Linked DNA regions of Homo sapiens. The protein of the gene in region 2 interacts with the protein of the main gene of each other region in a biochemical or structural test. Each region holds a gene or a part of one and is shown on either strand. Other genes may lie near its edges.

Region 1 (5,816 bases), about 61 Mb from region 2:
GCTCCATCCCTCCCCAGGAGCTGAGACCTCTACTTCTCCCCACCTTTCTGGATCCCAGACACATCATCAGCAAGATCCACTCTAGTGGAATAGAAAAAGTCTTCTTGTCTAGCTTGGGCCTGGTGACCGGTGGCAAGTGACAGGCCTCCTGCTTCTGGGAACTGACCTCTGATGGTGGCTATTGGACATGTAAATGTCTGCCTGGGGTCAAAAGTCTACACTAATGAGAAGATCACCTGAAGAACAGGGCCTCCCAGGTGCCTCCCCTACCCTTTGCCCCAGAATCTCCGTTTCATCTCTGGCACTCATCATGACTCCCTTCTTTGGCCTAAGACATGAAGTTACCTGGGACAAAAAGAACTTCAATCAATCAATTTATAAATTAGTTAGATCTCTTCAACAGAGAGTGGCCTGGTCCCCAAGAGTGGCCTGGGTGCTGTGTGCAAAGTTTATCCTCGGGAAGCACTTGACTGACAAGCGTGGGCTGGGCTGTGGTTTCAGGTCTAGCAGAATGCAGGGGGATGGCAGGAGGCACCCAAATAGCACAATAGGAGCAAAGCGGGGACCTGCCCAGCCTCCCAATGTGTCAGGCCAGGCCGCCTCTCCCAAGCCATCAAGTTACCCAGTGGCTGCTGCCTGCTCCTGCATGGGCCCCTTGGTAGCACGGGGGTGGGGGTTCAGCCTGGGTAGCAAGAGTGCTGGGCAGGCAGCTGGGGATCCCTGGGCTGGAAACTGACTCTGCCATTAGTTAGCTGTGTGGCCTCAGGACCCACTTTCCTTCTCTGGACCTCTGTTTCCCGCTCTAAAATTATGGGGGCTGGACGAAACATCCTCCGGGGACTCCCTTTGGCTTGAATGTGCTACAGCAATCTGAGATGGCCAGCTCTTTCCTGGGGCAGCCTTTTCCTCCTCAGAGCTCCTCTTTGCTGATCTGAGACTGTGCTCTGGTGGTGCAGGAGGCTGTGGCATAACTGGTCCCCTCGCTCCCTCCACCCTCTGTGCTTTCTTGCACAATTCCATAAGCTGAAAGAAAGAAAATGGAGGCTAGAGCCTCTCCAGGCCAGGAAGCTGAGCCACAGAACCAGTCCTCCCGGTTTTAAAGTTTTAACTCTGCTGCTGCTGCTGCAGCCTTTAGGAGTCCTGGTCACCAGGCAGGCAGGCAGGCAGCAGGAGGTCTTGGGCAAGGTGACTGGTTTGTTGCTATCTGCACTGAGTTGAGTAGGCTGGTCCCCGCTGCACTGGGATCAGAGATCAAAATACAGCACCAGCTGAACTGAGCTTTCTGAACCTGCTTCCCTGGACACCCAGAGGATCCCTCACCAGGTCCTTGACAGCCTGAAGGACACAGCTCTGCTTCCAGCCCCTTAGCAAGAGGCCCAAAGAGCTGAGTGCATGGAGGCTGTGGGCAGACCAGAGCACAAGAGATTGTTGCCTAGGCAGAGAGACACTGGGATTGGCTGACCGAGGCAGCACTTTTGGGGAATAGGTTGCCACGGAGAATCCACAGGTGTCAAAAAAAGTCATCACTGGCCCTATGTGAATACTTGGGTCTCTGCCCTGCCTGATGTGTCGTGATGAGGTTTTGTAGGAAATGCTGGCCAGCAGAGGTGTCCCTTTGCTGGGGCTGAGGCAGTTGCGGCCTCTCATGTAGTTATGAGGGAACCTGTTTTTTCACATGTGAGTTCCCCCAGCCCAAGAAAGCCTGTCATGCTCTGGGGTTGCCTTGTTTTTCTTAGGTGAATAAGCTTTAGGATTACCTTTCCTAAATTCATAGAACAGATAATCCTTTGTAGAAAAAGCAGGCTGGGTGTGGTGGCTCACATCTGTAATCCCAGCACTTTGGGAGGCTGAGGTCGGCGGATCACCTGAGGTCAGGAGTTCGAGACTAGCCTGGCCAACATAGTGAAACCCCATCTCTACTAAAAATACAAAAATCAGCCGGGCATGGTGGTGGGTGCTTGTAATCCCACCTACTTGGGAGGCTGAGGCAGGAGAATCGCTTGAACCAGGGAGGCGGAGGTTGCAGAGAGCCAAGATCGTGCCACTGCACTCCAGCCTGGGCAACAAGAGCGAAACTCTGTCTCAAAAAAAAAAATAAAAAGAAAAAAAGAGAAAACAAAAGTCTCTGAGATGGAACCTCACGATTACTGGCCTTTTTTTTTTTTTTTTGAGACAGAGTCTTGCTCTGTGGCCAGGCTGGAGTGCAGTGGCACGATCCCAGCTCACTACAACCTCCGCCTCCTGGGTTCAAGCGATTCCCCTGCCTCAGCCTCCCGGGTAGCTGGGACTACAGGCACGCGCCACCACGTCCAGCTAATTTTTTGTATTTTTTAGTAGAGACGGGGTTCACCATGTTGGCCAGGATGGTCTGGATCTCTTGATCTTGTGATCTGCCTACCTCAGCCTCCCAAAGTGCTGGGATTACAGGCGTGAGCCACTGCACCTTGCCCACGATTACTAGGCATTTCTAAGCTACTTGCCAGAGTGATCCAGGAGCCTGCCGTGGCCTTGTCTGGCCCCTCTGCCTGCCACATCACCAAGTGTATGCTTTAGATGGGGCTCAGCAGAACACAGTTCCTCATGCAGTTAGGACCAGCATGTGAAAAAAGCTTCCAGTCCCCAAAAGGAGTAGGGCCAGGGCCACAGCCCGGCTCTCGATCCCTTCACTAGGGGCAGCCCACTTCAAGTCCTCAAGACCTCCAAGTCTAGACCCCAGAAAGAGGAGTCTCAAGTTATTCCTTAGAAAGCCTCAGTGGACAAACAATATGCTATTTGGGAAAAAAATAGACCTGGCATTATTGTTTCTTCCCAGCTTTCCTGGGCATTCTGAGAGCTTTTGTTTCTCCTCAGAGGAGGGTTCTTTCAAAGTCACCTCCTCCGTGAAGCCTTTCCTGATTCCCCCGAACAAGGTATGGTCTCTCCTGGCACTTTGTTCCTCTGACACCAGTTATCATCACGGTGATAATAGTTATCTCTTGCTGAACATGTACGTATGTGCCAGTCATGCCATTCAGAGCATTCACTTATTATCTTATTTAATCCTCTCAACAACCCTAACTCATAGGTACTATAATTATCTCTGTTGGACAGGAGAGGAAATTGAGACCCAGAGACATGAAGTAACTTGCCCGAGTCACCAGGAAGAGGCAGCACCGGGCCTGAGGCTCATGCTGCTGACTTCATGTTAACCAACCACCATCCTGCCTCTTCCCGCCCTGGTCTATCTCCCCGAGCCTTCACCTCCTCCTGCAACTGCAGATAGAAGCTGCTTCTTCCTTTGTTTGTCATTCTCAACTTATCTTTTTTGTCCATCTTTATAAAGTTCTATGTTAAGAACCGTTGCCCAGTATTGGTGTAAATTTATAAATTATCTGGGCTGGATGGGTCATGGCTGCCAACTTCAGCGATGAGTTGGACCCAGAGTTGGCAAAAGGACGAAGCCACCTGGGGGCTGATGGTGGCTTTGTGGCTCCGCTTGTTTCTGGCGCGGTTGGCCCCACGCTCAGCTCAGCTTTCCTTTCCACTGCTCTGCTGCAGGGCTATGAGCATCCCCAGGGCAAGAGCTCTGTCCTGCTTTGTCCACCCCCTCTTCCTGCCACCAGTGCTTGCACCTAGTAGTCAGGCCATGGCTGTCATCTGCTTGGCAGCCTGTGCGCCAGAACAAGGTGCTGCCTGGACCCCACACCCTCCCAGGAAGAGACACGGTCCCCTTTATCTCACATCTCACTCTTCTCGCTTTAGCCCTTCCTGGCCCCTAGGGCTGAGCTCTGGTGGGGTGGAGGGCACCTCCTCAGAAGGGGACAACTTCCCAGGCCCAGGCAGACTGCTCGCCCTGGGCAGGAGGGCCAGCCTTGGCTTCAGCAAGTTCAGAACTCATTCTGCCCTCAGAAGCTTCCATTTGCAATGCTCCTCCCCAACCTGCTGGCTAGTCCACCTCTTTCTACCAAGGAGGCTCCCAGAAATAAGCTCTCTCCTTGAGGCCCGGTAGGTGCAGGCGGCCAGATGCCTCCTGATGAGCTTTACTGGTGTCCTTCCTGCTGCTCAGGTCTCAGGCACTGCTTCCGCAGCCTGGGCCTTCCTGCTCAGGGCGACGAGCGCATCTTACGGGAAGGACTTTCTGCTTCAGTCCACAGGACAGCCTCCCATGAGTCCTTCCTGCCTTCTGCACCCAGGACACTGTGTGCGGTGGGCATCTCTGGGCCATTTGGGTGAGGAATTCAATCTTTCAGTGTCTTAGCCTCTTCCCTGCCCAGTCACCTACGCAGAGGGCCTCTCCCACAGAAGCGGGCTGGCATAAGAAGGCCAGCTGTCTGGAGTCCTCCCTGAGCCCTCAGGACCCCAGGCAGCCTTTTCCTTTCCTGCTCAGCCTGCCCTGGCCCCTACTCTCTGCTCCCTCCTGGCCCAACCTGCTGCCCGCTGCTGGCCTGCTGTCTACCTAGTGCTCGACAGCCTCCGCCCCTCTGACCCCAACTGGGCAGCAGCCCCTGCTCAGCTCTGCATGCATGGAAGACTCCTAGGCACAGAGTCACCTTTTGTGAGGCAGCATGAGATACCCCCACAGCTGGGTCATTCTCCTCATCCAGGAGCCAGGTGTGGGAATTCACTGGCATGAGAGACACTTATGGGTTCCTCCTGACTCTGAGCACATGTGCTCCTCCAGGGCAGGGGACTTTTTGGTCATCCTTAGGAGTTGTGCACAGAGCGGGCTTTCCTTGGCTGGAGACCCCACCCACTGCACCCTCCCTGTGTCTGGCAAGTCCGGGAGGGCCCAGAGCACTCACAAAGCATCAGTTTGTCCTCGGGGCACTGGAGAGGCCGTGCAGTCCCCACACTCCCCCTCTCAGGTGCACAGAGCTTCCATCCAAATCAGCTGCTCCCAGAAGGGCTTGCCTCTGGTGCCGACCCTTCCCTGACCAGGCGCTCTGTCACTAGGGCTCCCAGGTGCCACCTCCAAGCCTGGGCCAGGACAACCGCCAGGGAAGCCTGCCTGCAGAGGGGACTCCTTGCTTGCCCCAAAGGCCTCAACCCCAGCTAGATGAGCTCCCGTGGGGCTGAGTCCCAGGCCCACCAGGCCTGGGGGCCACACGGCTCCTAAGCTCATCCTCTCCTCCTGCAGCCCAGTTCCCACCAGAACCAGCCTCAGGAAGACCCCAGGCAGAACGGCACAAACCTCTTGGTGTACAATGCCAGGGAAAGGATAACTGGAGACCACAAGACGTTAGCCTTGCTTCCCGGTGGGGCCCAGTGCTTTATAAACCCGAGCTCACTGGGCCCGATGTCCCCAAAGCTGACCAGGTCATCCACCCTGCAGCAGGGGTGGGGAGACCAAGGCCTGTGAGGAGTGACCGTGCTTGGCCAGGCAGCTCCCTGAACCTGCCCTGATGCTGAGTTTCAGAGTCAGAATCTGTGCCAGGTCAAACCCAGCCAAAGGGTGTGACTTGGAGCCTGGGACCCAGCAGTGCTCCCTAAATATTTGTGGAATGAATACACAAGGGAAATGTCCCAGAGGTGGTAAAGTGAGAGGGGCCTTGGATAGGGGTGTCCCGGTGGCACTGGCTTGGCCCAGCTGGGGCAGGAAGAGTAGAAACAAGCACCTCTCCCTCTAGCTAGGGAGCCAGAGACCAGCTGGGATTGGACTGTTTCACAATCAATCTGGAAAGAAGGTGGCAGGCCGGGTGGGGAGTGGAGCCCCTTGACCCAGGAACCCACAGCTGTGGAGTTAGCCTCCCTGTCCCAGGTGGGAGGCAGCCTGGACACCTTGGCACCCCCGTCCCTAGCCCAGGAATCCGGAGCACGCAGCGGCAGTGGGGACCTTA
Region 2 (5,816 bases):
CCATGCGGAGTCAGCTCTCGGGCTTTTAAGACGGCAATGACTCGGCCCCGCTGGGCGCCAGAATCCTTCTCCAGGCCAATGACGATAACATCTCCACCGCGCCTAAGCAACCAAAACCCAGAAGGGGAAGCGATTTGTCGGTAGCCGTGCTCTCCGGGGAGTGAAGCCGGTGTGCAGAAAGGTGCGGGAGGGAGGCAACAGACATGCAGTTTCTGCTAAGGGATTAAGTTATGGGGAGGGGACAGACTTCAAAGCAGAGGAGAATTTTCTCAGTGGAAACTGAGTCACAGTTGACTGTGGCTTTCCTTGTGTGGCACCTTAAGCTCTCTGGCAGGCAATAAGCTTTTGTGCGGCCACTCTTAGATTTGCTAAAGCGATCGCTTCCATTCCCAATGGAGGAAACCAACCCTCTTGGAAGAACAGCACCTGCCTCCCCACATGACCTGTAAGGAAGCCAGGGGGCTTCCCCTTGCTCTGTCCCCAGAGCAGGAGCAGTGGGCGTGCCCTGGATGGTGCCCTCACCTCGGGAAACGTACCTGGGGACCCAAATGAGGTCTCTGACGGCGAGGATCTTCACGGCCTGCAGGTGCTGGCTGAAGGTCTCCCCGTCCATGGGGGTCAGGTCATGCTCAGACCTGTCGGAGGCAGCACCGGGCGTATGTAGCATGTCTGAGTCCTCGCAGTCGGTGGAGAAAGGCACACTGGAAGAACTTGCTGGGGAGCTGGGGAGGCTTGAGGGGGACCTGGCAGCCTGGCGGGGTGGGGATGAGGAGTAGGAGGACATGGAGCAGTAGTCAGTGAGTGATTCCTGGTGGATCAGGATCTGCGTGCCCAGCTCCTCACTGTACATGATGCTCACGTCCGCGATGGAGTCCCCCTCAGGCACCTTTGGGTTGGCCGTGTGGCTGGCTGCCGGGGGTTCCGTGTCCAAGGGCCGCACGGGAAACATGTCCCTGAGGGGGCTGGGGACCCCGCAGAAGTACCGGGCACACAGCTGGTAGGTGGTGGAGTGGTACATCACCAAGGAGTTGGCCTTGTCATCCAGGCACCAGACGACCTCCTCCCCTCTGCCCTCAGAGCTGCACACGACTGACGTAACCATGGAGGGGGCCATGTAGGGCTCCAGCCGCCTGCAGATCTCCAGGGAGGCACAGTCGATGACAAGGAGGCCCGGCCCATTGCTGTACCAGACCTCAGAGCCGCTGTTGACCACCTCCATGGCCTTCACTGGGTAGGGGTTCTGCCGTGCGTCTTCATCCGCGATGCTGAACTTGGACCTGTTGGCTGTGTGTGAGCACAGGTAGGAGCAGCTGTCCTTTGGGGTGCCCCGCACCACGGGAAACACAGCCACAAGCCCATCGGCGAGGCCCGCTAAGACCAGGTAGGAATTCTGAAGGAAGGAGACAGGGATGTGTCACATCCTTCCATTTCACACATTCCAAGAGAGACACAGAGTAGGCACTGGACTCATCTGCACCCACACCAGGCGGGCAGTCACTTTCCACCAGTGCGCCTCAGGGCAGCAAATCTCTTAGAAAGGCCGGGGCTACTCCTAAAGAAGTGCAGCTCTGACTCCGCAGAGCCATATCTACCATCCCTGCAGCAAAGAAAGGAATGTGCCACCCAGAGGCAGGGCCTGTGGCACCAAGTAAGGCTGCGTGTCACCTGGACCACATGGGCTGCCTCTGCTTCTGCCAGCTTCTTGCAGGGCGAGCAGCAGGGAGCTGCCTTCTCCTTGAGGCCACCAAGGCCTCCTTCAGAGGCAGGACCTGGTGCCCCCGCCCTTTTCTCGGTGCTGCTTAACATGACAGCAGTGGGGGCATGGCAAGCATCTGTGCACTGCCCCCTGCCTGCCACCCCCCCCACCAGGCAGAGTGTTCCATAAGGATGGGCTCCCAGCCCACCAGCATCCCCGTGGCACTAGCCTGGCACAGGGAAGGGCTCAGTCTCCTTCATCTTGGTGGCCCTGTGACTCCACCTGGCTCCTGCTCCAAGTGGATGACATGTGTTTGCTGAACTAATTCTGGAAGAAATCGCTTCCTACTCAACCCTCTTCTGGAGGCCTGTCTCAGCCTGCTGAGCCCTCATCCCAGCTTACATCTATCGAGATGCCTGTGGTTCAGCTGACGTTGACAGGGTCCTCAGGGTGCCCCCCACCCCCTCAATGAAGCATGAGCTCTTCTACACCCGCCAGAGGTCACCGGGCAGAGGCCAAAGTTGCAGGGACCTTGCTGAATGCTGGGCCCACCCCAGACCGCCCCGGGGCACCTCCCAGGGCAGAGCCAGGAACAGAGTGCAGCTCCGCAGCCTAGACACCGCGTCGGCTGTGGTGGGGGTGGGAAGAGGTCTGCAGAACAAAGCTGGAGTCAGGGCAGAGCAGGGAGCTGGGCCTCATGCCAGTGAGGGGGCAGGGCAGAAAGCCTCCTTGTGGGGAGCTGGGGGAGCTCAGGAGGCTGGCTGTGCAGGGCAATGGAGTGGAGACCCGTAGCTCACTGTCCAGGACAACATGCTCTAAGAAAGCGTATCGAAATCCATCCCCAGGACTTTAGGGAAAGAAGGCAGCCAAGGCAAACAGGCTCCAGGTCTCTATCTGCAGTCCTGGCTCAGGCCCCGGCCAGGGCGGTGAGTGCCACGTCCCGGCTGGGTGTGAACGTGGGTGCGCGTGCAAGAATGCAGGCTTCGCGCTGGCGGCCTTGGAGGGGGCAGACACCCTGCCCAGGAGGCCCTGCACAGAGCAGGCTTTATTCCCTCTGGTCGTGCAGGAGGTGGTGCCCTGGCTGGGGGCTCTCGCCAGCGGTGGCCTCAATAACACTTTGTGTCGTGTTCTCCTGCGCTCTGGTACGGGCCTGGTCCCAAGCTGCGTAGCCTCGCTGTGGGGCCATGGTCATAAATGACTCTAAGGTTCATTTCATACCTGTTTTTTTTTTTTTTAAATGAAACTGAAGAAGGGTGAAGAGAAGAGTTCATGTATTTTGCGACCATCCAGAAGTAATAATAATACTCATTTACCAAGCACACCGGCCTAGACCTTTGGGTATGCTAGGCCTTCTGTCTCTTCTTATACCTGTTTTGTAGATGGGCAAACTGGAATTGGATGATGACAGTCACATTTTAACAAAGCAACACCAGTAAAGGCTTCTTGTGCATTTAGTGAGGGCGCCTATGCACAGACAGGCCCCTCAGGGTGGATGAAACCAGAGCTGGCTGAGCCGTGCCTGAATCCTGTGGGCGGAGGAGCCCGGAAAAGCCAGGGAGCTGCCCCCCACTGAGGGGCAGCTTCTCAAAGGAGGGGACAAGGCCCCGGGTCTTGAGAACTGAATCGGAGGCCGTCTGGGAAGAGGTGCGTGGAGGGGCTGTTCCTGGAGGAGGCTGGGATGTCAAGGGCCCAGCACAGAGTGGGGTGCTTTGTGGGGAGGGTGCCGGGCCCAGCAGGGACTGGAGGCCAGCCTCATAGAGGCTGGGGCTAATCCCAAGGTGCAGCACAGCTGGCTGGGCCTTTAATGGGGAGAGTGCCCCTTGGGGTCTCATTTAGAAAGGCCAGGGCTAGGAGGTTAAAGAGCTGAGTCTGCAGGGCTATGCTGCACAAAGAGAAACTGCGTCTGGTGTAAGACGGCGAGTACTTGGCGGGAGGCAGAGATGGAGGGAGGGAGATCAGGACCTCCAGGACCTGGTGATCAAGTGGCTGTGAGGTGGCTCTGGCCTGGGCAGGTGGGGAAGAGGCTCCGGATAGGGGAAGGGCACACGCATGACTGCTCACCGTGCCATTTGTACCAACAGTCCTTCCACCTGAGTCAGGGCATTTGCATGTGAAAGGGGGTTTTTCATTCGGCCTGCAGTCTGGCTGGGGACTTGACTTAGGTTTTTGCAAACCGGAAGGCACTAATGACGGACCAGGTCTGATATCTTTCCTCCCACCGTCTCTAAGTCTACGTCCTAGGCCAGGTGGTCCTAGGTGTGGCTCTGCAGGCGCCACCCTGACATAGCTAGGAGACGCCTCCTAGGCGTGGAAGTGCATCAGAGACCTGCATACCTGCCTTTGCCCCGACCTCACCTTTTTAATAACAGGCACGGCCAAGAAGCAGGTGACGACAGCTGGAGTATCCAAGGCCTGTTGGGGTGTGTTTAAGGGGCACATGCCCTTGAGGGTGTAGATGTAGATTTTCTGGTCCTGCAGAGGCAGACAGGTCCACTGTGAGACCCAGGCTGGAAAGTGTCTGGCATTTCCCAAGCCATTCCCATGAGGATGCACTTGGACTTGGGGATCCCCTATGGGTCTTGGAAAGTTACATGGATTGACACGTTCTGGTGGGTTGTTTATGGATTTCTGCTCTTTGTAGAAACGTTGAAAAAGACAGACTAGTCTAAAGAGGAAACAGAAAATAGCCCGTCATCTATTCCCCAGAGAAAACCAACATTGGGATCTGGGGGCACAGCCTCTCAGAAGTTCTCTGTGGTATTTGTGTGTGCACCTGGTACTGGCAAAGTGGACTCACGCCGCAATGCTGTCTTCTCACTGTTCTTCCCATGTGAGACAGCATGCTTTAGGCAGAGCCCTTGCTTTCCTCACTCTAGGAGGAAATGTTCACTGTTCTTCCCATGCAACAGCACGCTTTAGGCAGAGCCCTTGCTCTCGCCCATTCTAGGAGGAAATGTTGTGGGAGCATCTCTTGGATGCCTGGGACTGGGCTGCACCTACTTCGGCTAATCTGTTGTCAGATGTTTCTTAACACTGAGATTTCTGAGGCTTAAGTGGTACGCAAGGCTGGAGTGCAATGGTGCGATCTTGGCTCATTGCAACCTCCACCTCCTGGGTTCAACCGATTCTCCTGCCTCAGCCTCCTGAGTAGCTGGGAACACTCACGCACCACCATGCCCAGCTAATTTTTGTATTTTTTAGTAGAGACGGGGTTTCACTATGTTGGCCAGGATGGTCTCAATCTCTTGACCTCGTGATCCTCCTATCTTGGCCTCCCAAAGTGCTGGGATTACAGGCGTGAGCCCCTGTGCCTAGCCTGCCTCAGAACATTTGTGTTTGGCCAGTTGTCTCGGGACTTCTCAGAAGACCCCTCCTTGGGCCTTCTAGTGACTTCCCTGATTTCCCTGATGTGAAGGCAAGAGGCCTTCAGAGCTGAGTGACTAGCAGTGTTATGGGAAACACAGGCACGTCCCTAGCCTCCTGGGTCTCGTCTCCTGCTGAGGGTCTACATCTGGTCCTCACCATCGCAAATCCCGGCCTCCAGCCAGCAGCAGGCAGGGTTGAGCTGCCCCTGGTGACAGGCTGCTACTTCTCGGGGCTCCTGGCATTACTTGGGGACTGCACGGGGATGCGCTGGGGGTTATCTGAAAGTTCACTTGACCTGGCGTCCTGTATTTTTATGAATGTGGCCCCCACCCAGGGCTGCACCCAGTGGGCAGTGCTTACCTCGGTGGGCAGGCCTGCGGGCAGTGCTTACCTCGGTGGCTGTCCACAGGGATCTCTGGACCTGGAGCTGGCAGCTCACCTTCATCCCAGGGCAGCACATCCTCTGCACCTCCATGAGGCCCTTCTCTGTGTTCACCACCGTGTAGTTCCTGTAAGTGGCAGAAACTGTGCTGTCAGTGCCCGGGGGCCAGGGGCTGCCTCCTTTCCCTGAGCCTGGCCTGCCAGCTGCGAGCCTCGTCTACCTCCCCTGCTCCCACCCAGGGTTGCATCCTGTGTTCTGAGAGGGCAGAGCCGGGTTCTGCCCGAAGGGTAATGCTTGACCGTCGCCCGCAGGAAGGGCATTCGCCAGAGAAGAAAGGCTGTCCTCTTTCCGTGACCCCTCAGGGTTGAGACG
Region 3 (5,372 bases), on a different chromosome or scaffold from region 2:
GGAGTGGGCTGGTAGGACAGAAGTGGGTATATAGTTTGCCCTAACCTGTTTGATTAAGATGTCATCACAAGTGGTCAAGGCTTGACGAAGTTTTCCTGCCCCAGTGCTGTGGCAACAAGCTCTCTCTGCTGATTGGAGAGACTCACCAAGTTTCTGAAGCTCTGTCCGCAACAGCCTTATATTCTGAAAAAGGGGAAGTAGGAATCATATTGTGGCCAAGAGCAACCAGGATAATGATCTGGAGGGGTCAGGTAGCCATTTGAAGAGAAGTAAAATTAGAAAGGCTAGTCAGCTGAGTGAAATAGCCACTCTCCAGAACTGTGCACAAAAAACATCTTGTCTTCACATGAACCAGTGATAGAGTGTTGGATGTGGGAAATTGCCTTAGGTAAGAGTTTGGTAAACAGAGAATGGTGGTAATTACCTTCTGGCCCTCTTCTAACTTCTTGTCCACATCAATGGTGAAGGGCTTGGCTGAGGGTGGTGGTTCTAACATTTTCTGATACTTATGCAACTCTGAGGGAAGGAAACAGGAAACTTAAAATATGTGGGGTTTTTTTAGCCTTGGACTAACCTCTTTAACTGAGGTAACAGTAGCTTGCAGCAAATATAAAAAGTGAGGCTATGTGTATCCTAGATTGAAATGTCAGGGGGATGTAGCTTGCAGTTTAGGAAATTATGTTAGAGCAGGAGTTAGAAGGCCTGGGTTTAAGTAACAGCTCTTCCCTGAACCACTGTTATGTTTCCTGCCTGTCTCTTTCCTCACCTTCAGTGGTAGAGTTTAGCTCTGCTTTGCACTGCTGTAATTTAGCTTTAACCTCCTGAAGCTGCTGGGTGGAGGCAGAAGCTGCCAACCTTTGTGACCGCCGTAGGGCCAATTCAGACCCTGATTGCTGATGGGCCACTGACTGTTGTCTGGCTTCCTGCAAGAGAGCTTCTAGCTCTTCAATCTTTTCATCCCGCTCCTAAGAGGGAAGCAGAGAGCACAATTCTTTGCAGAGCCAGAAAAATATTGCTAAGACAGATGACTGAACAAACAAAGCACTTGTGACACTGATCCCTTGAAAACCTGTTGTTAGCACTTAATACGATTTCCTGGCCAACTAAACCCTTAATCAATTCACCAAACATAGATTGAACCCAAAGCACTATGGGGAATAGAGAAAAGGGAGTTATATATTCCTGCCCTTACTGGAGTAGTTTATAAAATCTCTTTACTTCAGGCAAGCTAGTGATGGAAATCTGAGCAGCTAATTGGAGCTGGCTCAGGGCAACTCACCTGAATCTCTTCTTGGTAAAAACTTGTCAGTGACTCCTTGAGGATATTTAGTTTTTCTTCATACATTTCCTCCAATAGTTCCTTTTGGGTGTCCAAATGTTCACTGTCAGAAACAGAGGAGAAAAGAGAGGTAAGTGAAGGTTCTGAGGAGTGAACTTGGGGAACAGATCTTGAGGCACAACTCCACCTAACTCCTTACTTCCCACCCTCTGTCTCAGGTGACAGAGCAAGAGGGGTCACTCAGCTAGTACCTGCACCACTGTTCCCGCTGTTGCATCTGTTCTACCATCTCATTGCAAATTTCATCTCGGAGATGCATCTCCAGCTGTAGCTTTTCCTGTCGTTCCTTCAAAAGCAGTGTCTTCATGGCTTCCACAACTTGTAGGAGCTCCTAGGAGAGACACACATGTCAGAGGTCATCAGATGCTCATGCCCTCAGAAGGCACAAGCCCACCTGGAAGGCACCATGGAAAAATGTGTAGCTACTAAGCTGCTACACTAAAGCTTTCTTGTATTCTCACCTCTTTGCCATACATGGAGATGTCAGCTTCATTTTCAATATCATCATCAAGGCCTGTGTCTGCCTTAGCCCCTTTCTCTAAGCTGGGGGATACCTGAAGACTATGTTCCTTGATGAACGAGTGCAGGGATGGGAATCCCAGTTGCATAGGTGGGGCATGCACAAGCTAGAGGGAAAAAAAATATCTTACTTGACTCCATAAGTAGTCCCTAGGAGCTTTCTTAGAGTTACCAGTTCCAAGTGCGCACACCCATCACACCTCTAGCTTCTCACCTGGCTAGCAATGGCTGAGAACTTGGCCACATGAAGAGTTTCATCATAGGTAGATGCACAGGGATTCACATTGACAATCATGCAGGAACGGCCTCGGCCTGTGAAGAAACCTTGGAACACTCGAGTCAACTTGCTGTCACGGAAGGGAACCAGGTTCTGCTTTGACCTGGCAGAGAATCAGAGATAATAGAGCTGTGAGCAGAACACCAGCCCTTTGGGTATCCTAGCACCATCCCCAGTGGTGTCCAGGAAGTCTCTTAGCAAATTGCAGAGCCCAGGAATTATAGTCAAAAGCTCACCGGTTCTGCTGGTTTTGACGAAGGGCAGCAATACAGCGGCCCAGGGTGTGTAGAGAGGTGTTAATGTTTCCTGCTTCCTTCAACCGTTCACCACTCTTCTGATCTTTGCAGCGCTCTGAGCCAGCCAGATCACAGAGTGACAGCCTAGAATGATGCACAGGATCTGACATAAGGGCCTCACATGTTATGAGCCTTCTGGCCCTTTGTATAATTCTGGAGAGGGGACGGCCCACTAAGAATCTCTGTACCCAAAGAAGGAGAACACATAGTTCCCCTGAGGACCTCCTCCATGCTTTCCCAACTATCATTTATGGCCAAGAAGCCCAAATTTCTAAATGGATAAACTTACTCGCTGATCTTGGGGACTATATCTCCTTCCCCCTGAAGGTGTAGGATCCTGATTGAGAAGATGCTGTGACTGGAAGTTAAGAAAAACAAAAAGTCATTGCACATTTTCCATGACCAGGCAGAGGACTAATGTTTCCTGGAACACAGTGAAGAGTTTATTCTTACAATCTACTCACCTGCGGCTGGAGTTCTGGTTGAGGTGGGTGCTGGCAAAGCTCTGGTTCTTACGACCCACTTTTAGGAGCTTCCAGGCCTCCTCAGCATCTTGCACATGAATCCAGTTGAGATCTGGGGCCAAAGGAGAGGGGTGTAAGATGGGAACATCCAACTCTTTTGCCAGTCTCTCCCCAGTTGCCCTCCAGGGTTCATGCCAGCTTTCCCCATGTTCCTTTACCTTTCACATAGGGATTGCCATTTTGATCCTCGCATAGCCGCAAAGTCTGCCTCTTGCGCTGTTGGCTAGGCGGTTCTAATAGGTCATAAAGCAGTTCGTTGTAGATCTCAAAGAATGAGATCCAGATGGAGAAGCGAATGTTTGCCGGGACAGGTAGTGGGGCAGTGTCTGGCTGTGCCCATCGATGACTTGTTTCTGGAGAAGAAGCCAATGTATAGGGCATCAACCTAGAGCAGTTCACCTCTCTTTTGGCCTGCAGGGGCCTTGGAAGGCAGACCTTAGATTGCAACCTCTGGTCTGTACTCCTGGCAGCTATTAGGAACAGGGAGTGAGTTCCTACTATTTTTTGGCAGAGCCCAGTCACGGTACATACCATCCAGCTGGCTACTGCTGGTACACTGACTGATAGAAGAGAGCCCAGCAATGCCACTGTCGAAGCTGGTGCTGGTACCTATCCGACTTTCGATGTAGACACTCCTCTTCAAGGAAGTGGACAGCTCCTCCTGGAGGGGCACAGGGAGAAGGTAAGCACAAAACTTCCCCGAGATTTGTACCCCCTACCCCCACTGCCATGGATACCAATGCTTTACCTCTTGGAGGCCTCCATTTAGCAGGGACAGCTTCTTCATTTCCTCCTGTCGGATCTGCTTGCTGTCTAGCCAGATTACCTCATTGGAGAGCAAGGGCTTCAGATCAGGTGTTGGATGAAGTTGGCCTTGGAGGCTATTGAAGATCAGCGCCAGGGACCGGGGGAGAATCCCTCCATCCTTGATGGTACCTGGAGGCATATGAAAGATGGACAGCTGAGGCAAGTGCCCTTCTCCCCCTAACTCAGAGTCTCAAAAGGTAAAAACAACACCATTACCAGCCAATCAGGAATCCCGTGAAGGCTTACTACTCACCTTGAATCGTGTGGGTTTTCCCTGAGTTAGTGACTCCATATGTATAGATGAGCCAGTTCTGCCCTTTGAGTACATCCTTTACCATCTCCTTCACAGTTAGGTTGAAGAAGGATGCCTGTCCCACTTCTGGCCCAAAGATCTAGAGAGAGACCCAGTTTTTTAGAGGCCTCTCCTTCATCTCCCACTTGCCTCCTGTGCAGAGCCAGCAGATATATTCCTTCCTGAGTGGTTGGCTCTGGAGACCACTCAAGCAGCTTCTTCCTGCAATGCTGCTGGCTGTTCCCTAAACACTGAGGACTCAAGCACTCTCTGCTAGTCCATCTTTCCACCAAATCAACAAACACTTAAGGAATGCTATGCCCTAGGCCTGATGCTGCACACACAATGGGGCAATATAATGGCCCACAAGTATGGGCTTTGGAGATACATGGATCTAGACTCAGGTCCTAACTCTACTAGTGACTAGCTACATGGCTTCAGCAATATTACATTCATTGAGCCACACTATCCTTGTGAGGAAAATAAGGAAATAATGATAATAACAATAGAATTTTTCAGAACTGATATACATATGTTACTTGACACATTGACTAACACATAACTAGGGCCCTCAAAATTGTAGGTGTGCATATACAAGGAACTCACAGTCAGGAAGAGAAGCTTTCCCTCTAAAGAGGGAATAAAGTTGCCCTTACATGTTGGTCTTTTGTTCACAAACCAGTACCCTCCATACCTGGGAAAAGGTGAACCTGTGTGTGGCTTGGCCAATTCCCCGTTCATTGCTCTTCAGGGCAAAAGAGTCCTTGGGTGCTTGTAGAACAAGGGTCTCCACATTCTCAATACGGACACAACCCTGAGAAGGGAGAAAATACAGTTGTCACAGAAGGCATTCCTGGGAATCTTTTGTACTGCATCATTTCACCTTGAATCCTCCCTTCTCAGACACTTACCTGATCTTCCTGTCGTTCCAACTCTGAAGGTAACAAGGGCCTAACCCTCAAGTATACTTTCACCTTCTCCATACTGTCCTCAGATGGAACCTGTGGCAGAATCCCAGCCCAGAACCACAGATTAATTTCAGCAGTTACCTCTGAGCAAATGGGCAAACAGTAGTTTCTAGGAACTATGATAACACTACCCCATTTCACCTCAAATGTCTCTGTGCAGCTACTCTTTGGTTCCACAATCATTCCAACCCACATGGACATTTTTACTACTTTGTCACCCTTCCCTGTCTCGTCATTATCCTGCAAATGTGGCTTGCCACACCGATGATCTGAGTTCGAATTTATTGACTGGTATGAAAATTAGTATGTGATATTAAAGCAAAGCAGAGGCAAACACTTGAATTTGAGTC
Region 4 (5,816 bases), on a different chromosome or scaffold from region 2:
GCTGGTGCCTGCATTCCAGTAGCCCACAGTCTGATCAGAACACAGACACTGCAGAAGGTGCAACAGCAGAGTGATGAAGGGCCAGAGCCAGAAAAAACAATTATCTGTGCAGGGAGGGAGAGAACAGGGAAGGCTTCTGAGAAGGAGCAGCATTTGAACTGGATTGAGCAAGTAGCAAGAATTACACGAATGATGAGTCATTCTGACCAAGGACAGCAGCAAAGGCATGTCACAGAGAAATGTGTATTCATGATGAGTCTTGAGGAAACGGGACTTCTACCGGCAAAGAGTGGGACAAAGGGGGTCTAAAAGTCACAGTGAGAGGAAAGTGTGGGCCTGTCTGCAGGATGGTGACCCCTGTGTGGCTACACCAGGTTAAGGGATAAGGCTGGACGGACCCACTGGAGCTGGATCCTGGAGGGCCTTGAAAGCCTCACAAAGGTGGTCACAATTTTAATCTAAGGCAAGAGGGACCCAATGATGTTCTAACCTTGGTAACACCTAGGAGTGGATTAACTGGCTTGAAGGAGAAGATCACCAGCTGGGGATGCTGAGAACTTGAAATCCCAAATCCTTACCAAATACCCTCCTGAGTTGGGACCAGGGACCCCCCTTTTCTGCAAGTTAAAAAGTCTTACTGTCACATCCAATGCTCCCACAGTTACCTGGACTTCAGCTTTGTACCTGATTTTGGTGTCACTGCCTGGGAGGAATCAAACAGATCAAATGAATTATCACTTTCCATGGGATATTTGTCACCATCTACAAAATGCAAAACACGAGAACTGTTAGTTTCACTGTTGTCAGCATTCAAGAGAGAACTGAAAGAGAATACAGTCAAGCCCCTCACATTCACTTATCCATACACACACAGCATTCCTTCAAATCTTCACTGGGCCTCTGTCCTGCCAAGCCCACCTTTGTGGGACACCAGGGAGACAGAGTGACCAGGCCCAGTCCATTCCCTAGAAAAACTCTCAGCAGAAAAGTAAATAAGCAATTTTATTTTAGTGTGATCAAGGACAAGGGAGGGAAACACAGGCTGTTGGGGCTCAGGTGAGGGGCACTACCCCCAACTTGGCTTCCCAAAGGCTAATACCCGTTTTAAAACCTTATGTTTTAAGACTGATTGTGACTGACCTATGGTAAGAAGGAGGGAAAGAAATGCCAGGCAGCACAATGGGCAGGTGAGAGGCAGACAGTGGGACAAAGAGTGGAATCATCGCTCAGGGAGAAATAAGCAGTTCATAGACCCAAGGCCCGGGTGCAGGGAAGGACAAAGTAGAATGCAAGGCCAGAACCAAGAGGACTGAGGGGCCCACTCAAGGGCTTTGGGCAAGGCAATGTCAAGCTGAGGTCTGTATTTTGTACTGAAAGAGTAAGTCTGGAGGCTGCCACACTAACCTAAGCTAGAGATGAGAGTAACCCACAATAGGATCTGGGGGGTGATGTATTTGCAACACTGTAAGGAGGCAAAACCAATAGATGCTGTACAGATGACCTGTGCAACACGTTATAATTTGGAAAGCACTTTCACATATGAAAAGCTATTGGACTCAATAGCTCAGTGGGCAAAACACACTGTAATTCAGATTTCATGGAAGGGGAGACCAAGGGGCAGAGATAGAAAGTGATCTGTCCAGCATAACCCAGCATGTCAGTGGCACAGAGCAAGGAAGCCTAGGGCTTAGGATCCCCCTTCCGAGCTCCTGCACCACTGGGCGGTGGGCTGACTGCACTCCAGCATTTCCCAGGGGTGTGCTACAGTTCCTAAGGCCAAGGAGCCAGGAGGTCAGCTCCATAGAGCTGGCCCCAAGAGGAATCACTCTCAGTGAAAGACATCAGCCTTTAGAACAGAATTTTTAAAACAGATGCACTTAAATACAGACCTGAGAAGTCTTTTGCAAAGGAAGAAATGCTGCTGCCTATAATTCTGATCTTGACTCAAGGAAATTATAAAACTTTTCTGCTGAGGCAGCACTGTGAATTCTGAATGCTCTCCTGGATGCCTCTTGCCAGGCATGATGAGGGCTGCTTTCGGCAAATTTCAAAAGCAGGTAAAGGCTGTTTGATGGCCTCCTCACTTCAGCTACCCAACTCTCCTTCCTGGGTACCCCAAGCACAGAACTGTTCTCCCTGCTTCAAACTCCCCTAGCCTACCCCACAAGTTCCTGAATCCCATCTCCTCAAAGCCTTAAAAAGGGCCAGGTGCAGACCCGTGTTGAAAATAGTAATGCCCAATGCTGAGGTCACACAAAAACCACTACCTTTGTACACTGCTGATGTACAGACTATTTAGAAGGTGGCAATATGGCACCTTTCCAAACTTATGAGGTTCCCCTTGTAGGGTTTTCTCCTAAGAATATTATTTAACAGCAAAAAGCATATTAACATTGATGTCTATTATGGCTCCAAATCAGAGACCACTTTAATAAATCAACGGGGTCATGGATTGGTGACTGAGAATAGCCTGCAAACAATCATTAGGAAGCCCATGTGAAAGCACAGGGAACATGTATGATGTAATATTGGGCAAAAACAAAGAAAGGACACACAATGACACAAAATCCAATTTGAAAAATATAAATTCATGCTCATATTTAATAAATGAAAAAATATGCAAATTTTAAAAAATGATCAATGTGTAGAATCATGAACTTTTTTTCTCTGTTCACTTTTTTCATATTATTACATCATCTTTTTGATTAAATTTTAAGATCCTTGTCAATGAGAAATCAATGAACTAATCACTACGAGCGGACTGACCAGGTGCTCCTTAAGAGATTTATTTTTATTTTTTTAACTAGAGGTATCCAAGTAAAAGTCAGTCCAAACTTTAGTACAATACTTGCTTGTAAAGCAGGCTGGCATTCCTCATCCCACTGGATACACACATTTACCCTATGGGTGTCAGGATGATAATCCCAGGATACCCAACGCTCCAGAGAGTCCAGTGGGGTTTAGGAACAGCCCTGGACTCGAAGCTGGAAATGGTTTCTAGCTCCAGCTCTGCTGCCTACTTGCTGTGCCACTTTGGGCAAGCCCCATCCACTCTCTGGGCCTTTGTTTTTCATCTCTAGAGCAAAGAGGACAGGCTGCCTGATTGCTTGGAGTCTAACCATTTACTGGTTTGCTCCACACCCTGGGTGGGCGGGTGGTAGAGGTGTCTGGTCCTCTTTCTCGTACCCCCCACAGCCTCTCCAGGGCTAGGCAATTAACCTGCACACAAATGCAAAACAGATCCACTTTTTAAACCTATCAGGATGATTTTCAGATCCTGAAAGACACTGAAAGCCAGATTAAGATGTTTAGGTTCCCTTCTAAAGGCAGTAAGAGAAACTAAAAGAAATTTCAGCATCAAAGTGATGCAGGCAGGACTAAATGGATAGGAGGGAGCAAGGCCAGAGGCACTGAGGGTGTCTGGAAGTCCAAATTCCACTTCCCTGAGAATCAAGATGCCTCAGATGGAGATTACGCCACTTTGCCCAAGGTGACCGCTAATTAATTAGCAGTCAGGTCCCCTGGCTCCTAGGGTACAGCATGTCAGCTATCAATGGAAAGACACCTCTGTGGGGCAAAGGCATCATTCAGAAGTTCACATGTCACACACAGATGCTCAGAGCTGCATTCTCAGCAAGTGGGGAGAGGCAGGGGCAGTACCGTGTTTGTCAGGCTGAAGGGGCACCTCAGGGATGGACACGGCTTGGACAGCCAGAGTGAGGGCTCCTTCCTGTGCCTTCTCTGCCCCCCTTGCCAGCTGTTCCTTGAGCCTGCTCTGCAGAGTGCTGCTGGTTTCGATGCTCCTTTCTAGTTGCAAGCGCAGAGCCTGGATCTCCATCAGGAGGCTGTGCAGGTCCCTGAAAGGATCCTGCCCCTTCCAGCCTTCTCCCGACGCCTCTGAGGACATGTGCAAAGAGAAGCCCTGACATCTTCCACAACCAAAGGGTCAGCCATCGAAGGAACTCAATCGCATTTTACACTCACCACCACCATCGCCCTCCCCCTTCCTAAGAACTAGGTACAGTTTAAAATAACAACTTGACTTTAGAAACAAAAATATTGGCAGACTTAATTGCTGCTATTCCACACGCTAAATAAGAGCTGGAAATTAATTTTCGCTTCTGGCCATAAAAGCCTAGCAAATTGCACACCAAACCCCGAAATTATGTCTAGTAGTAATAAAATCTATTTGGGCTAGAATTATAGAATGAAAGGGGATGATTTTAAGAGCCACACTATATTAAAAAGACACAACAGCAAGAATAAAAAAAGCAAGTTGAGGAGAAAATAAAAGCTGTGAGATGACCCCTTTCTAGATAAACTTTCAATAGAGAGAAACCATCTGGAAAATTAGTAAAATAAAAAAAAAAAAAAAACACCTCACCACACCTCAAAATTGATTCTGAAACATTAGACGTTATAGTTGAAGCACTCTGAGCTGGTATCTCTCCTGGGATACAGAGAGCAACGAGGCCAACAACCATCCCCAGAGCAATGCCCAGCACGTGAGAGGTGTCCATAAATGTTTGCTGAATGAGTGGGCAAAAAGTAACATATACTAGCAGGACGATTATAATAAAGGTCATTTCCTGGGTGCCTACTATGTGTCAGGTATCTTGCTAGGATGCTTTTAATAAATGGTCTCATTCAATTTTCAACACAATTCTCCACACAACAGGTGCTGAGAGACATGTTTTACAGAGATAGGTATGGGCTCAAAGGGTGAAGTGGCCTACTGAGGGTCACATAGCTGGGAACAAGTGAGTGGGAACCCGGACCTCGGCTGGCCTGGGTGCTGAGCCTCAGTCCTTCTATGTTTCCTGCTGTTCCTTCAGAAGAAGAGTGGGTCAAAGAGCTAGCTTCAACACCCATCCACTCTACCCACAAGGCCAGAGTGGAGAGGGCTGAGCTCTGCCCTCCTGTGCCTACAGCCAGCTGTCGGGTGGTCTTACAGCCCAAAGCACAGTAGCCTCAAGGTGAGAAGGGCCTCAGTACCTCTCAGTCTCCTGTGCTCTTCATCCAGCTTCTCATACGCCTTCAGCTCCACTCGGAGAGACTGCAATAGCTTGTCATTCTGTGAGAGCAGCTGCTGCCTCAACTTCACCTCCTCCTGCACCCTGAGAAGGCCCCACAGGCATGAGAAGGACAGGTTAATTCTACCTCAGGGTAACTTATTCAAACCCCACAGAGCAGGCCAATTCCACCCTCAGTCACAAGAGTGTGGACCAAGAAGTGACAAGCATGGTTAAGAATTCCATGTGCTCTCTAATCCTAATTCCACTCCTCTGCTCAGAATCTCCCAGTGGCTTCCCATGCCACTCAGAGGAAAACCCAAAGTCCTCACACTGACTCTGCAGCCCGATGTGATTTGGTATCCTGCCAGCCCCCTCTCCAGATACACTGCCCTGCTCTGTCCGGCACAGGCCTAAGCCACTTTGCCTCAGGGCCTGCGCCCATTCTGCCTGAAATGATCTTTCCCAGGTAGCTGCAGCACTCACCTCCTCACTGCATTCAGCTCTCTGAGCAAATGGCATCTTTTCACAAAGGCCTTCCCTGACTCACCCTTGACAAAAAACAGCAACCCACTGCCAAGCCCTCTCCTCCTTACAGGATCTTTCTCCATATGTTGTAGGCGCACCAGACGTACAATGTGTTTGTGTCTACTGCCTGCCACTGTGCACTAAGGCAGAGGCCTGCGTGCTGATTCCACGACTGCAGCCCAGTGCCTGCATGCGTGGTACGGCCAGCAGGCCACCAGGGAAGCACAGCCACTACCTGCTCAGCTCCTGGCCGCTGCAGCGGACCTCCTGGATCAG
Region 5 (5,816 bases), on a different chromosome or scaffold from region 2:
TAAAATGGAGTTGTTATTGCCCAGGCATAGTGGCTCACACCTGTAATCCCAGCACTTTGGGAGGCTGAGGGGTGGGGGGGTGGATCACTTGAGGTCAGGAGTTCGAGACCAGCCTGGCCAACATGGTGAAACCCCGTCTCTACTAAAAATACAGAAATTAGCCAGGCATCGTGGCATGTGCCAGTAGTCCCAGCTATTCGGGTGGCTGAGGCACAAAAATCTCTTGAATCTGGGAGGCAGAGGTTACAGTGAGCCAAGGTGCCACTGCACTCCAGCCTGGGTGTCAGAGTGTGACTCCATCTCTAAATACATAAATAAATGGAGTTGTTATTGCAGTTGCTTGTTTTCCCTTTTCTGAATGTTTCCCACGCCTGCTCCTGGCTGATACTTTACTCCTAAGAGTTGGCTTTTCTACCTTCTACGTTCTTCAGTTTTTACCTGAAATATCTTGAATAAGATATTCAAGAGTTGGCTTTTCTACCTTCTACCTTCTACATGCTTCAGTTTTTACCTGAAATATCTTGAATATTTTGAAGTCTCTTTTTCGTGGTCTCGTTAAAGAAAAGACAAAGTCTTTGAAAACTTATGCCTCCATCCTGTGCCTATAAAACCCCCCGAGACCCTAGCAGGCAGGCACACAAATGGCTGGACGTCGAGAGGAACACATCAATGGAAGAACGTATAAGTGGAGGCTGTTGACAGGGGCGTGCCAACAAAAGAGCACACCAATGGGCACCAGCATGCCGGCAGGCCATCGATCAGTGGAACAACGCAGAGTTTGGCCGGGGTGGTGGGAGGAGAGCCCGGGCCACAGAGCTGCCCGGCTCCAGGGAAAAACCATCTCCCTTCTGGCTCTCCCATCTGCTGAAGCTACTTCCACTCAATAAAACCTTGCACTCATTCTCCAAGCCCACGTGTGATCCAATTCTTCAAGTATACCAAGGCAAGACTCCTGGGATACAGAAAGTCCTTTGGAAGCCCTCTGTCCTTGTCATAAGGCAGGGAGTCTAATTGAGCAAACACAAGCCACCTATGGACAGCTAAACCAAAAGAGCACCCTGTAACACACGCCCACTGCGGCTTCAGGAGCTGTAAACATCGACCCATAGACCCTGCTTTGGAGTCAGAGCCTCACAACCTGCCCTTCGGCATGCTCCCCCTAGAAGTGTGAGCAGTGGGGCACTGAAGAAGTGAGCCACAGCCCTATGGTACACTCTGCGAGGGGAATAAGGGAATTTTCCCATGTCACAACGACTGACAGTGAAGCCATCAGCTGTGATTCTTTCAGCTTAGTAAATGCGTTTGATTTCACCATCTATAGAAACAGAATTACTATGTATTCCTTCTTCAAAAGATGTTTGAGAATGTACTTGGTGCTAGGAATACTAGTGAATAAAAAAGGCAAAGTTTCCGTCTTCAGGGAATTTGCATTCTATGGTGACAGAGACTCACCAAAAATAGAGAATGAAATAATATGTATGTGTTCTGAAGTAAAATAAAGAAGGATAGTGGGGGAAAAGAAAATAATAGGGGCTATTTTAGATAAATAAGGAGGTCGGGGAGGAACTCTCCGAAGAAGCAGCAGTTGGGAGGTATGGTAGTCATTAAAATTCTGACAAATATTCTGTTCTCCTTCTAGACACTTGGTAGGACAACACTTTCCTGTGTTGTCCTCATAAAGTAAGATGTAGCCATATGCCCTGAATTGCTCAGTGTCAGTGGAGGTGACCTCTGCCACTTCTCGATAGGAGTCTTAAGAATTAGTGGATGACTTGCTGTGTCTTTTCCTGTCTGGTCTAGTGACAAGCAATGTTTAGATTTTTCTGGGTCCTGGAAGAAGGACAAGAAGCAGAGCCTGTAACAACCCTCAAAGGGCACGTGGCAAAAGCAAACAATAACACTTTGTTGCTTTAAGTTACTGAAATTTGGGGATTGTTTGTCATCACAGTGTAACTTAACCCATCCTGACTGAACAAGGGATAGAAATCCTAGATATAAATGTGTTCTGGAAGCTGCAGAGGACAATACAAATAGACTCTGGGAGGCCAGTATTCTGGTCAGCTGGTGCAGTGAGTGAGACAGGCCAATCCACTTCAGGAAACACTGAAGGAAACACCTCATTACAGCTTAGTACAATAATGGAGCTTCATCATGATGATTCTGCAGGATCACAGAAAGATTAAATTATATTTGGCATACTCTGTTTAAGAAAGAGAATGACTGGGCGCAGTGGCTCAAGCCTGTAACCCCAGCACTTTGGGACAGCTAGGCAGGAGAACTGCTTGAGCCCAAAAGTTCAAGACCAGCCTGGGCAACATAGTGAGACTCCATCTCTAAAAAAAATTAAATTAAGTGTTTTTAAAAAGAAAGGGAATGGTGTGATACAGTTCAGAAAAAAAACTCACAAATGAGCAAAAGCTTCAATGATCTGAAATATTCCTATGGGCTGAATCACCGGAGGCTAATGCATACTGTTAATAAAATTGCATATATTATACTATTCACTCTTTGTTCTTTTATTAGGTGTCACATTTTGTGTCAAGTGCTCAATATACTTTATATAATTTAATCCTCACTACAACCCTGTGATAAATCCAATGGATTGTTGGAAATCACAGTTACTAAGTGGCAGAGTTAGACTTTGAAAGAATGTCTTTACTGGTATTGCTAAATACCTCATGTGATCATCTATCCTTGCTTGTTTTCAGAAATTGTTTCTCATGGTATGAATGGCATATAATTCACTTGGAGCTGAAATGGGAGTTCACTCATTTTATAAAAATATGACATTGACTTTAAAAGAATTTATTTACTATCTCACCTACCAATGATAGATCTTTAAAACTTAACTCTGATAAGGGAAAAGTAAATTGAGTAAGTCTTTCATGAGCACTGATTGCTTAGTCAGCAACACCAAAAGGGCATTAGGTGCACAGTGCTTTCATGGTTTGGTAAACTCTGGTATTTTTCTGTTTCCATGATGGATACTCCAAATTTCCTGTTGAAGGTAGAAAATGCATTCAAGTGGACAGCTTAGAGAGCAGCCAGAAGGGAGGGGCAGAGTGTGTGACAGGTGGTGGCATGACCAGTAAAGACTTTTCATATGATCATGGAGAAATAATGGACTGGAAGTGGCTTTAAGAGCCATGAGAGTGAGTTTTCCACTTTTCCCTATCCTGTGGGACAACGACTATAAAACAGTTTCCAGGGGCCACAGAAGGAGGAAGTACCTGGAGAAGCCTGAAGTAACTTTATTGGCTTATCCTGGGAACTCCTAGATTCCTGAGAAGACAGTGTCCTCTGAAAACAGCCTTGAGGGTCCTGTTTTGATTTTCCACTGGCATTGGATTTATCATGGTAGATCACTGGACTCTTCAATTTTAGGTCCCTGTACATCACTATTGCAATTTCTTTTCTTTTTTTCTTTATCTCTCTTCCTTTTTCTTTATCTCTCTCTTCCTTTTTCCTTCCTTCCTTTCCTTTCTCCCTCCCTTCCTTCATTTCTTCTTGATGCAACTTATTATTCTTTAGAATTCTGCACTCTTTTTTTTTTTTTTTGACACCGAGTCTCGCTCTGTCACCCAGGCTGGAGTGCAGTGACGCGACCTTGGCTCACTGCAACCCCCGCCTCCTGGGATCAAGCGATTCTCGTGCCTTAGCCACCCGAGTAGCTGGGATTACAGGCACACACCACCACGCCTGGCTAATTTTTGTATTTTTAGTAGAGATGGGGTGTCACCATGTTGGCCAAGATGGACTTGAACTCCTGACCTCAAGCAATCCTCCTGGCCTTCTAAAGTGCTGGGATTACAGTTGTGAGCCACTGTGCCCAGCCTGCATTCATATTTTGTGTGTTTCAAGCACTTTTAAGCTTTATAAGTGCGCAAAATAAAGTAGCATTAAATAAGATTTTTTGTAAGCTTTTTTATTTTAAAGATCTGTATTTGGCTGGGTGCAGTGGCTTATGTCTGCAATCCCAGCACTTTGGGAGGCTGAGGTGGGTGGATCACTTGAGGTCAGGAGTCAAGACCAGCCTGGCCAACATGGTGAAACCCCCTGTCTACTAAATATACAAAAAAATAACCAGGCCTGGTGATGCATGCCTGTAATTCCAGCTACTTGGGAGGCTGAGTGAGGAGAATCACTCGAGCCGGAAGTTGGAAGTTGCAGTGAGCTGAGATTGCACCATTGTACTCCAGCCTGGGAAACAGCATGAGAATATGTCTCAAAAAAAATCTATATTTAAACTATAATGTTCACCAATGAAATTACACACCTTTTCAGATACAAATGAAGGACCCAAAAGGACTAGATTATTGTACAGTACTTTCAAGTCTTTACCCAAAACCAAAACCAAATAAATATATTCATGTTAAAATAGGAATGTGAATTATTTATACTACACTGATGAGATGGATGGCTCTAAAGCTGCATTCTGCTTCATTTTTCTTATTCAGCTGCCAAGTTACTGCAATTAATGACTAAATCTTAAGACCATCTGACAGCTTATTCCTTCTAGATTTACAGTAATGACTGCTTTTAGTGACATTTCCAACTAACCAAAAATATCTTTCAGAGAATGTTTATTAAAATTGTTAAATATGTTAATAATCAAAATTAAGGAAAACAATAACTTTTATCTACTGAACTATATGGAATTGTTTACTATGGGTTCTTTGTAACTTCATCCCATTACATTTGGACCAAACACAGATTGCAGAAGAATGAGAATCAGCAAAGTAGACAATGTGTCCAATGAGAGCACTAATAATGATAACATAGATGATCATCATGAACACCATATTTAAATTATTTGAATTTCAGCCCTCTTATTAATATACCACAAGGCTACCTTTTTATTGATGTACTTTGGAACTAGTCCTGAAGGCTCAAGATCATGCTTGTCTCCAGTTCTTTTATCAACATAAATTGGTTTAGGCTTTTTAGCCACTCCCATGATGATATCAGCTGCATTTGTATTTATAAAATTTTTTCCACTCTGTATTCCCATGACAGGATGATCAGTCTTCAATGGCACAGCAGGCTTTTTGGGCACGTTCCGATCAAAGTTTTTTTCTGTTAAATATAACATTTCTTTGTTAATATTAAACTACAAACACTGCTACTCAGTGCTATTTATAATATCCAGATATTTCACCACTTGTATATTGAAGTTGCAGTCATAATATATTTAAATATTTAAGATAGAAGTTTATGCTTACCCCCAAACTCATTGACTTGTAGACATTAAATATGCACAGCTTTTTACCTGTCAATCAGGCCTCAATAAAATAATTTTTTAAAAAGAAAAAAAGTCAGTAATTAAAATGGAAATAAATTAAGGGCAACATAATCAATTAATATGTTGAGGAGGCCGGGCACGGTGGCCCACGGTGACGTGGGCAGATCGCTTGAGCTCAGGAGTCTGAGACCAGTCTCGGCAACACAGTGAAACCCCATCTCTGCAAAAAATGCAAAGTTAGCCAAGCATGATAGTGTGCACCCTTAGTCCCAGCTACTCAGGAGGCTGAGGTGGGAGGATTGCTTCAGCCTGGGAGGCGGAGGTTGCAGTGAACCGAGATCATGCCATTGTACTCCAGCCTGGGTGACGGAGTGAGACTCTGTCTCAAAAAAGATCATATATGTGTGTGTGTGTGTGTGTGTATATATATATATATGAACAGTATATAAATACAAGGAAGAAGTATTTCTTGCTTATTGGCCGTTTTTACACAGCCTCTTCAGTTTGATCATTCCCATTGATCTATTTTAATATAGCCAAATGGTTTGCCACAATGCAAAAATGTGAAATAATT

Evidence for each region.
Region 1: the proteins of LRRK1 (region 2) and PAK6 form a complex in vitro, tested with the Homo sapiens proteins (one large-scale study listed by BioGRID).
Region 3: the proteins of LRRK1 (region 2) and KIF20A form a complex in vitro, tested with the Homo sapiens proteins (one large-scale study listed by BioGRID).
Region 4: of the proteins of LRRK1 (region 2) and CDK5RAP2, one has a biochemical effect on the other in vitro, tested with the Homo sapiens proteins (one study listed by BioGRID).
Region 5: the proteins of LRRK1 (region 2) and ENKUR form a complex in vitro, tested with the Homo sapiens proteins (one large-scale study listed by BioGRID).

What each region holds. Positions count from the first base shown.
Region 1 is NC_000015.10:40,240,683-40,246,498, reverse strand, and holds part of PAK6 (serine/threonine-protein kinase PAK 6), read right to left. Parts: intron 1-5,816. UniProt on the Homo sapiens protein: Serine/threonine protein kinase that plays a role in the regulation of gene transcription. The kinase activity is induced by various effectors including AR or MAP2K6/MAPKK6.
Region 2 is NC_000015.10:101,060,926-101,066,741, reverse strand, and holds part of LRRK1 (leucine-rich repeat serine/threonine-protein kinase 1), read right to left. Parts: intron 5,572-5,816; coding exon 5,454-5,571; intron 4,169-5,453; coding exon 4,052-4,168; intron 3,341-4,051; exon of another isoform or gene 1,391-3,340; coding exon 537-1,390; intron 103-536; coding exon 1-102.
Region 3 is NC_000005.10:138,181,105-138,186,476, reverse strand, and holds part of KIF20A (kinesin-like protein KIF20A), read right to left. Parts: intron 5,056-5,372; coding exon 4,966-5,055; intron 4,869-4,965; coding exon 4,749-4,868; intron 4,155-4,748; coding exon 4,016-4,154; intron 3,892-4,015; coding exon 3,704-3,891; intron 3,617-3,703; coding exon 3,487-3,616; intron 3,309-3,486; coding exon 3,114-3,308; intron 3,008-3,113; coding exon 2,896-3,007; intron 2,790-2,895; coding exon 2,721-2,789; intron 2,516-2,720; coding exon 2,372-2,515; intron 2,239-2,371; coding exon 2,073-2,238; intron 1,966-2,072; coding exon 1,801-1,965; intron 1,671-1,800; coding exon 1,531-1,670; intron 1,383-1,530; coding exon 1,280-1,382; intron 966-1,279; coding exon 767-965; intron 517-766; coding exon 425-516; intron 184-424; coding exon 46-183; intron 1-45. UniProt on the Homo sapiens protein: Mitotic kinesin required for chromosome passenger complex (CPC)-mediated cytokinesis. Following phosphorylation by PLK1, involved in recruitment of PLK1 to the central spindle. Interacts with guanosine triphosphate (GTP)-bound forms of RAB6A and RAB6B.
Region 4 is NC_000009.12:120,403,352-120,409,167, forward strand, and holds part of CDK5RAP2 (CDK5 regulatory subunit-associated protein 2), read right to left. Parts: coding exon 5,776-5,816; intron 5,118-5,775; coding exon 4,996-5,117; intron 3,898-4,995; coding exon 3,661-3,897; intron 763-3,660; coding exon 685-762; intron 1-684. UniProt on the Homo sapiens protein: Potential regulator of CDK5 activity via its interaction with CDK5R1. Negative regulator of centriole disengagement (licensing) which maintains centriole engagement and cohesion. Involved in regulation of mitotic spindle orientation.
Region 5 is NC_000010.11:24,990,794-24,996,609, forward strand, and holds part of ENKUR (enkurin), read right to left. Parts: intron 5,077-5,816; coding exon 4,853-5,076; intron 1-4,852. UniProt on the Homo sapiens protein: Adapter that functions to localize a calcium-sensitive signal transduction machinery in sperm to a calcium-permeable ion channel.